2 separate regions of the Homo sapiens genome follow, and region 2 is reported to be linked to region 1. Evidence: microRNA targets listed by miRTarBase, many of them from high-throughput screens and not tested one by one. Region 1 holds a microRNA gene; the other region holds the end of a gene's coding sequence.

Region 1 (3,308 bases):
AACAGAAACAGAAGGGTGAAATGACTTCCTCAAGAATTTCAAACTATTAAATAGGAGAACTGGGATTTAAGTCCAAGCAGTGAGCATTGTGCACATACACTGATGGTGCCATGCTTCCTCATATGGATGTGATACAAGATTAGAAACACAGAGCACAGGAACAAATGGCTTTGGTCCAGAAGCAGACGGCAATGTAGCAAAAGTAGACACCGTAGCACATGCTCAAACATCCGTGGTGCATGAGCAGCCACCACAGGAGTCTGAGCATTTGACCACGATGCACACTCAGGTTCTGCAACAGAAGCTGACATCCAATATATAGGAGTAGATACTGAGGACGAAGAAGGAGGCAAACACACTGTATGACAAAAAATCATGGTGCACAAAATTATATTCATGGTACAGAAAATTCCATTTTTAGTACAATGTAGACAACGATGGTGCATTTTCACAAATCATGATGAATGAGCAGAAGACCATAGCTAAAGGGCATAAGCACATTCATACAACCATGGAAAATTAGCCAGGGCTCACTTAGAGCCAAGAGACATCTTATGAGAAAATAATCATAAGTGGAGACCTCATAGATGGATATAGTACAAGATCAAAACATCTCAATACATGAATGATTATTTCAAATGTAGGTGGCAAAGGTGCATAGAGGACCCACCGTGTAACATGTTCAGACAAAAGTTGATGAAAGCCATTAGTGATATTTGACTGTTTGATCTTGACTTACACAGGTACACAAAAGTAGTTTACACTATTACGTAGCATTTATGCCAAAGGAGCTAAGAGGCATAGATAGATACAGCACACAAACTTGTTTTCGGAGAATAAAACCATGCTGTGGTGCTTACTTAGACAGATATTGTGCCTTATACAAGAGCCACGGTACAGGGGTAAACAGCTTTGTCCATGAGTAGATGTCAGATATGTCAAAAGAGACCTGACACCATATACTCAGATGACCATTGCATGAACAGCCACCACTAGTATTTGGGCATTTGACTATGATGGCTACCTACACAATCCCACGACATAAAGTAAAAGAATGATACAGGAGCAGGTAGACATGAAACCATGATTACCAAAACGGATATGGTTGGTGATTAAAAATCATTATTTTCTTTAGTCTGGGAGAAGATGGCAATGATTAAACGGGTGAAGTTATGATATATGCTGAAACAGCCATGTTGCATGAACAGCCATCACATCATAGGCATTTAAGCATTTGACTGATGTACAATTAGAAAGCCCAGTGACATGAGATAACATCTGTCTTTTTGGAACAGATAAACAATGTGCAGAAAAAGGCAGAAGTGATCTAAGAGTAGAGAGTCATAGAATATGAGTAAATACTAAACTCATATACACGATGCATAAAACACTATTTCCCTGTAAAGCAGTAGACAATGAAGGTTCCTGCTCAGAAACCATGGGGTATGAGCAGACAAGCATGCTGCATGCTCAGACAACCATGGTGCATGAGCAAAAACCTACAATATAAAAGCAGGTGGGTGTGATACAAGAGTGAATAACACAATGAGGAATATGCCCAGATGGACAGGACATATGAATAAAGGAAACATAACACATGAATACAACTTATTTAGGCAAACAGCATATGACAATGATGCTGGAGGAGATATCATGGCACATACTCAGGCAATCATGGTGCATGAGCAACTAACACTAATATTTGACTGTTAAACCACGATGTACACCCAGATATCCCAACAAAAATAAGCTGATGACCATAATATAGGAGCAGATGAACAAGGATATTGAAGAAGATGCTGATAATAAAATAGCAGAAAACGATAGTGCAGTAGCTAATAGAATACTACAGATGGCAACGATTCAAATGACTGCCATGGCATATACTTATATAATGATGCTTTAAACACTATCACAAGTATCAGCATTTGACCATAATGCACACTTAGAGAACTCCAGAATTTGAGCTGACAATTATTATACACGATCAAGGGACACAGTATCATTATCATCATTGTCATGTCATCATCATCATCATCATTGTTATCATCATCATCACTACCTGCCAGGCAGTATTAAAAATATTTTATGTATAATAGCTTATACAATCCTCACAATAACCTTACTACTTTTTTTGTCATTTTGCAGGAAACTGAAGCATGAAGATACGAATTGATGTGTCCATTTCATGAACTGATGTGTCCAAGATCTCATAGCTAGTAAGTGGATAATCCAGGATTCAAATTCAGTCATTTTGGCTCCACTATCCATTATTGTAAATATGACAATAAATGACAATATGCTGTGATTCTTCTGACAGACATGATACCAGATTTTAAAACAGAGCAGAAAAATGAGTGGCTTTGTTCCAGAAGCAGATGGCAATGTTGCAAAAGTAGACACCATAGCACATGCTCAAACATCCGTGGTGCATAAGCAGCCACCACAGGAGTCTGAGCATTTGACCACGATGCACACACAGAAGATCTGCAACATGAGCTGATACCAGGTTATAGGGAGTAGACAGATGACAAAGGACAGAGAAAACTCATCACAATAGTGAAAGACATGGTGTAGAAATTAATATACATAGTACAAAATACTCATTCCCAGTACAAGTAGACAATGATTGTGTATTTTCACACAAGTGTGGTGTTTAAGTTTAAATACGTAGTACAACTTCAATCACAGTATATGAGCACAAATTCATTATGTATGTTTATATTATCATGGAGAATAGGTCAATTCATACATGAAAAAGGGGATAGATATGGTATCCCAGGAAAGAATCACAGAGTAAAAACTGCTCAGGTGATACAAAAAATACGGGTATGTATGGCATTTTGTCAAAAAGAAGATCAAAATAATACAGGATGTTCAGATGAATAAGATGCCAAAAAGCATGTTTTAATATGTGTTCATGAGGTCCAGTCAGACACCTACAGGACATAGGCTATCAATTATGACACAGGTGCAGATGGACATGATATGGAAATAAAACATGGTGTGATTCTTACTTGGGTAGATATGGTATGTAATCAAAAATAACCATGCAAGCAATTAATGACTTTGGCCCAAGAGAAGATGACAGTGGTACAAAAAAAAGACTCACATGGACATAATGACTCATAAAAAAAATAACCATGGTGATTGACTCTACACATTTGTGTTTGGGCATGATATAAATCCAAACGATCCCATTACACAAACTAACAGCTATGATACAGTTAGTAAGCATGATACAGGAACAGACAGCAAATATGGAGAAAATACCCATTCTGCAGGAGCCAGTGACCACAATTCAGGAA
Region 2 (3,308 bases), not on the chromosome of region 1:
CTGTGGAGGCCTTGGGTCTACCTCTTGGCACTCGGGCATAGACTTGGCCTTTGAGTTCAGGGCTCATGGGGGGCTTCGGTAGTGAACTTCATTCCTGGGAGGACAGATGGCTGCAGCCTCATTGACAGCAGAGGGAATTGCACAAACCCTGGCTTACTCCAGTGGCTCCTGGACACACTCAACCCCAGCACCATGGGAGGGGGACCAGAGGCCAGCTCTGCAATGGATGGGCAGCTTGTTTAGAAGCCTGTGGTGGTTGCCAGATTGCCTGGTTAGAAAGTTAAACCCCTCCCTCCCTCCCTTCCATTCCATTTTTTTTTTTTTTTTTTTTTGAGACGTAGTCTCACTCTGTCGCCCAGGCTGCAGTGCAGTGACGCAATCTCAGCTCACTGCAACCTCTGCCTCCCAGGTTCAAGCGATTTTCCTGCCTCAGCCTGCCAAGTATCTGGGAATATAGGCATGCACCACCACACCTGGCTAATTTTTTTATTTTTAGTAGAGACAGGGTTTCACTATGTTGGCCAGGCTGGTCTCAAACTCCTGACTTGGTGATCTGCTCACCTTGGCCTCCCAAAGTGCTGGGATTACAGGCGTGAGCCTCTGTACCCAGCCTTAAAAAAAACAAACTTTTTTTTTTAGAGACAGCGTCTTGCTATGTTGCCCAGGCTGGTCTTGAACTACTGGCCTCAAGTGATTCTCCCAAAGTGTTGAGATTACAAGAGTCAGACACCGCACTCGACCTCAAAACTTTGACTTCTCGTTGGACTGATCTTTTCCTAGATGCCATTATTTTATTTATTTATTTTTACTTTTAATTTTTTTAGAGATGGGATCTTTCTACGTCACCCAGGCTGGAATGCAATGGTTATTCACAGGTGTGATCATAGCTGGTCTTGACCTCGTGGGCTCAAGTGATCCTCCTGCCTCAGCCTCCTGAACAGCTGGGACTACAGGTGTGTGCCACCACATTTGGCTTACCATTATTTTAGAAGGACTTACACCTGTCTTGCTATCTGGAGTCTGCAGATTTCTTACCCAAGGTAAGCTCAAGCAGGGCCTGTTGTCTGGAACAAGACCTGTTCAAAATGTTTGCCTTAATGCTACAGTAGTAATGGTGATAGTCAATAGTAGCTTGCTATGGGTCAGGTACTGTTGTGAGAACAGAAGCTCTCAAAGGGGTATTGGACTCTGGGGATGGCTGAAACACTTCGTGGGGGCGGGGGTTGGTGTCCACGAGACCAAATTATTATTATTAATTATCTAAGATGGAGTCTTGCTCTGTCACCCAGGTTGGAGTGCAGTGGCACGATCTTGGTTCACTGCAACCTCCGCCTCCTGGGTTCAAGCAATTCTCCTGCCTCAGCTTCCCGAGTAGCTGGGATTACAGGCACCCACCACCACGCGTGGCTAATTTTTGTATTTGTAGTAAAGACGGCGTTTCACTATGTTGGCCAGGCTGGTTGTGAACTCCTGACCTCATGTGATCCACCCACCTCGGCCTCCCAAAGTGCTGGGATTATAGGCGTGAGCCACCGCGCCCTGCCTTTTTTTTTTTTATTTTGAGACAAGAGTCTCATTCCGTCACTCAGGCTGGAGTGCAGTGGTGGGATCTTGGCTCACTGCTAACCTCCGCCTCTCAGGCTCAGGTGATTCTCATGCCTCAGCCTCCGGAGTAGCTGGGATTACAGTTTGTGCAACCACGCATGGCTAATTTTTTTTGTATTTTTAGTAGAGATGAGGTTTTGCCATGTTGGTCGGGCTGGTCTCGAACTCCTGACCTCAAGTGATCCATCTGCCTTAGCCTCCCAAAGTGCTGGGATTACAGGCGTGCATGATGCCCGGCCTCCTTGTCGCTTTCAAACAGTGCTTCTAGGAGCTAACAAAGAAGTGCCTCTTTGTATGATTCCCCAAGAGAGACCCACCCAGGCAGCACCTAGCCAAGGGACAAAGACCACTCCTATCCAAAAGCCCTTTGATTCAACTTTTTTTTATTTTTTTTTTCTTTTTGAATGTCATGCAATAATTCACAGTCCCAAGCCCACGGTTTTCAAACAAGGTAGGAAAAAAGGAAAAAAGAAGCAAAGGAATCGGTGGTGATGGTGGGTTTTTCTTCTTCTTTTGTTGTTTCAAGCAGGACCAAATGTCAGAAAAAAATGCCTCTTTTCTCAATCATTAATTTTTTTGTCCTTTTTAAAATTGTTTATTGTTATTATTATTTTTTTAAATTGATTTCTGCAGGCAGTAATAGTAGGGTTTGGTATAACCGGCAAGCACTCTTGTGTGTGTCTGAGAACGTGTGTGGGTGTGAGTGTGTCTGGTGGTGGGTGTAGGGCACTGGGATTCTGGTTCCTTCTGGCTTCTTTGCCGCACTCGGCCACCAGCTGTCTTCATCAGGGAAAGGAAAGATTCAATTGAGATGATAAAACTCATCAATAGAAGCTATTTTTTTCTCCCCGTTTTTTCTTTTAAAAATGTTTTTTTTTTTTTTTTTTTTTTTTTTTTTCATGTTCCCCAAAGTTCTCCAAAAATGGCTGAGTTAATTCAAATCCCTTGGCTGTGTGGTTTGTCTGCTCCCTGCCTCCCACCCGAGAGCCCCTGTCGTGGGTGGGGGGATCGGGGCTGGTTGGGGGGCGCCGTGGCTGCCCAGGAGGGTCTCTTTTGGCCGAGGGTCTCTGCGGGACACCCTTGTGGCCCAGCCCTGGCCTCTCCAGAGTCTGGGGTCTCCCGGCTGGCCCTCTCCCGGGCCCTCTGTGCTGGGCCCCCGCGGCCTCTGCGCGGCTCCTCGGGTGGGGTGTGTGCGTGGGGTGCGTGGGGGGCCGGGCGGGCGCCACCTCGCCCGGGCTTAGCACCAATCATCGTCACTCTCGCTGTAGGGTTCGTGCAGGCCCTTCCTGGAGCCCGGCCCGCGGGGCCTGGCCAGTCCGTGCGCCGGGTAGTAGCCGTTGGGGAGTCGCCGGCCGTGCCGAGAAGGCGAGGCGCAGGCCGGGCCCGAGGCCCGGGGAGTCCTGGGCGAGCGCCCGGTGGCGCCCGAGGACGCGTGTCGTACGGGGGGTGGCGCGTCGTAGGCCCCGGCCATGGCCTCCTCGCCGCCCCCGCTGCCCGGGCCATCGGCCTCGTCGTAGTCGGAGCCCCGGTAGTAGCCATGGTGCCGGGGACCCGGGGGCCCCTCGGACACGTGCGGGCCAGATGCCGGCCACCGGGCCCCGCCGTGTCGACAGGCCCTGGGGGACTCGCTCCGGGCCGGGCCTGGGACCCGCCTCTCCATCCTGGGCGAGCGGCCGCTGCTGTGGCCCCCCGTGGGCGGCCGA

What was found. The annotated mature microRNA hsa-miR-767-3p reads UCUGCUCAUACCCCAUGGUUUCU and lies in region 1 at 1,432-1,454, opposite strand. An mRNA with a match to its seed (bases 2 to 7 or 8) in the 3' UTR can be bound and repressed. Matches are read on the target gene's strand: a 7mer-m8 pairs with bases 2 to 8, a 7mer-A1 pairs with bases 2 to 7 and ends in A, and an 8mer does both.
Region 2: the mRNA of CACNA1A is a reported target of hsa-miR-767-3p. Seed matches in the 3' UTR shown: 7mer-A1 at 2,567-2,573.

What each region holds. Positions count from the first base shown.
Region 1 is chrX:152,392,016-152,395,323 of GRCh38, forward strand. It overlaps MIR767 (microRNA 767), which reads right to left and starts at 1,514; the gene lies at 1,406-1,514. The region is part of intron 1 of GABRA3 (gamma-aminobutyric acid type A receptor subunit alpha3); the gene reads right to left. MIR105-2 (microRNA 105-2) reads right to left here and starts at 2,477; the gene lies at 2,397-2,477. MIR105-1 (microRNA 105-1) reads right to left here and starts at 284; the gene lies at 204-284.
Region 2 is chr19:13,204,471-13,207,778 of GRCh38, forward strand. It overlaps CACNA1A (calcium voltage-gated channel subunit alpha1 A), which reads right to left. Exons shown (of 47, transcript NM_001127222.2): 47 at 1,972-3,308. The coding sequence ends at 2,843. Among named protein-coding and RNA genes, the nearest start is that of IER2, 56 kb to the left of the region's middle.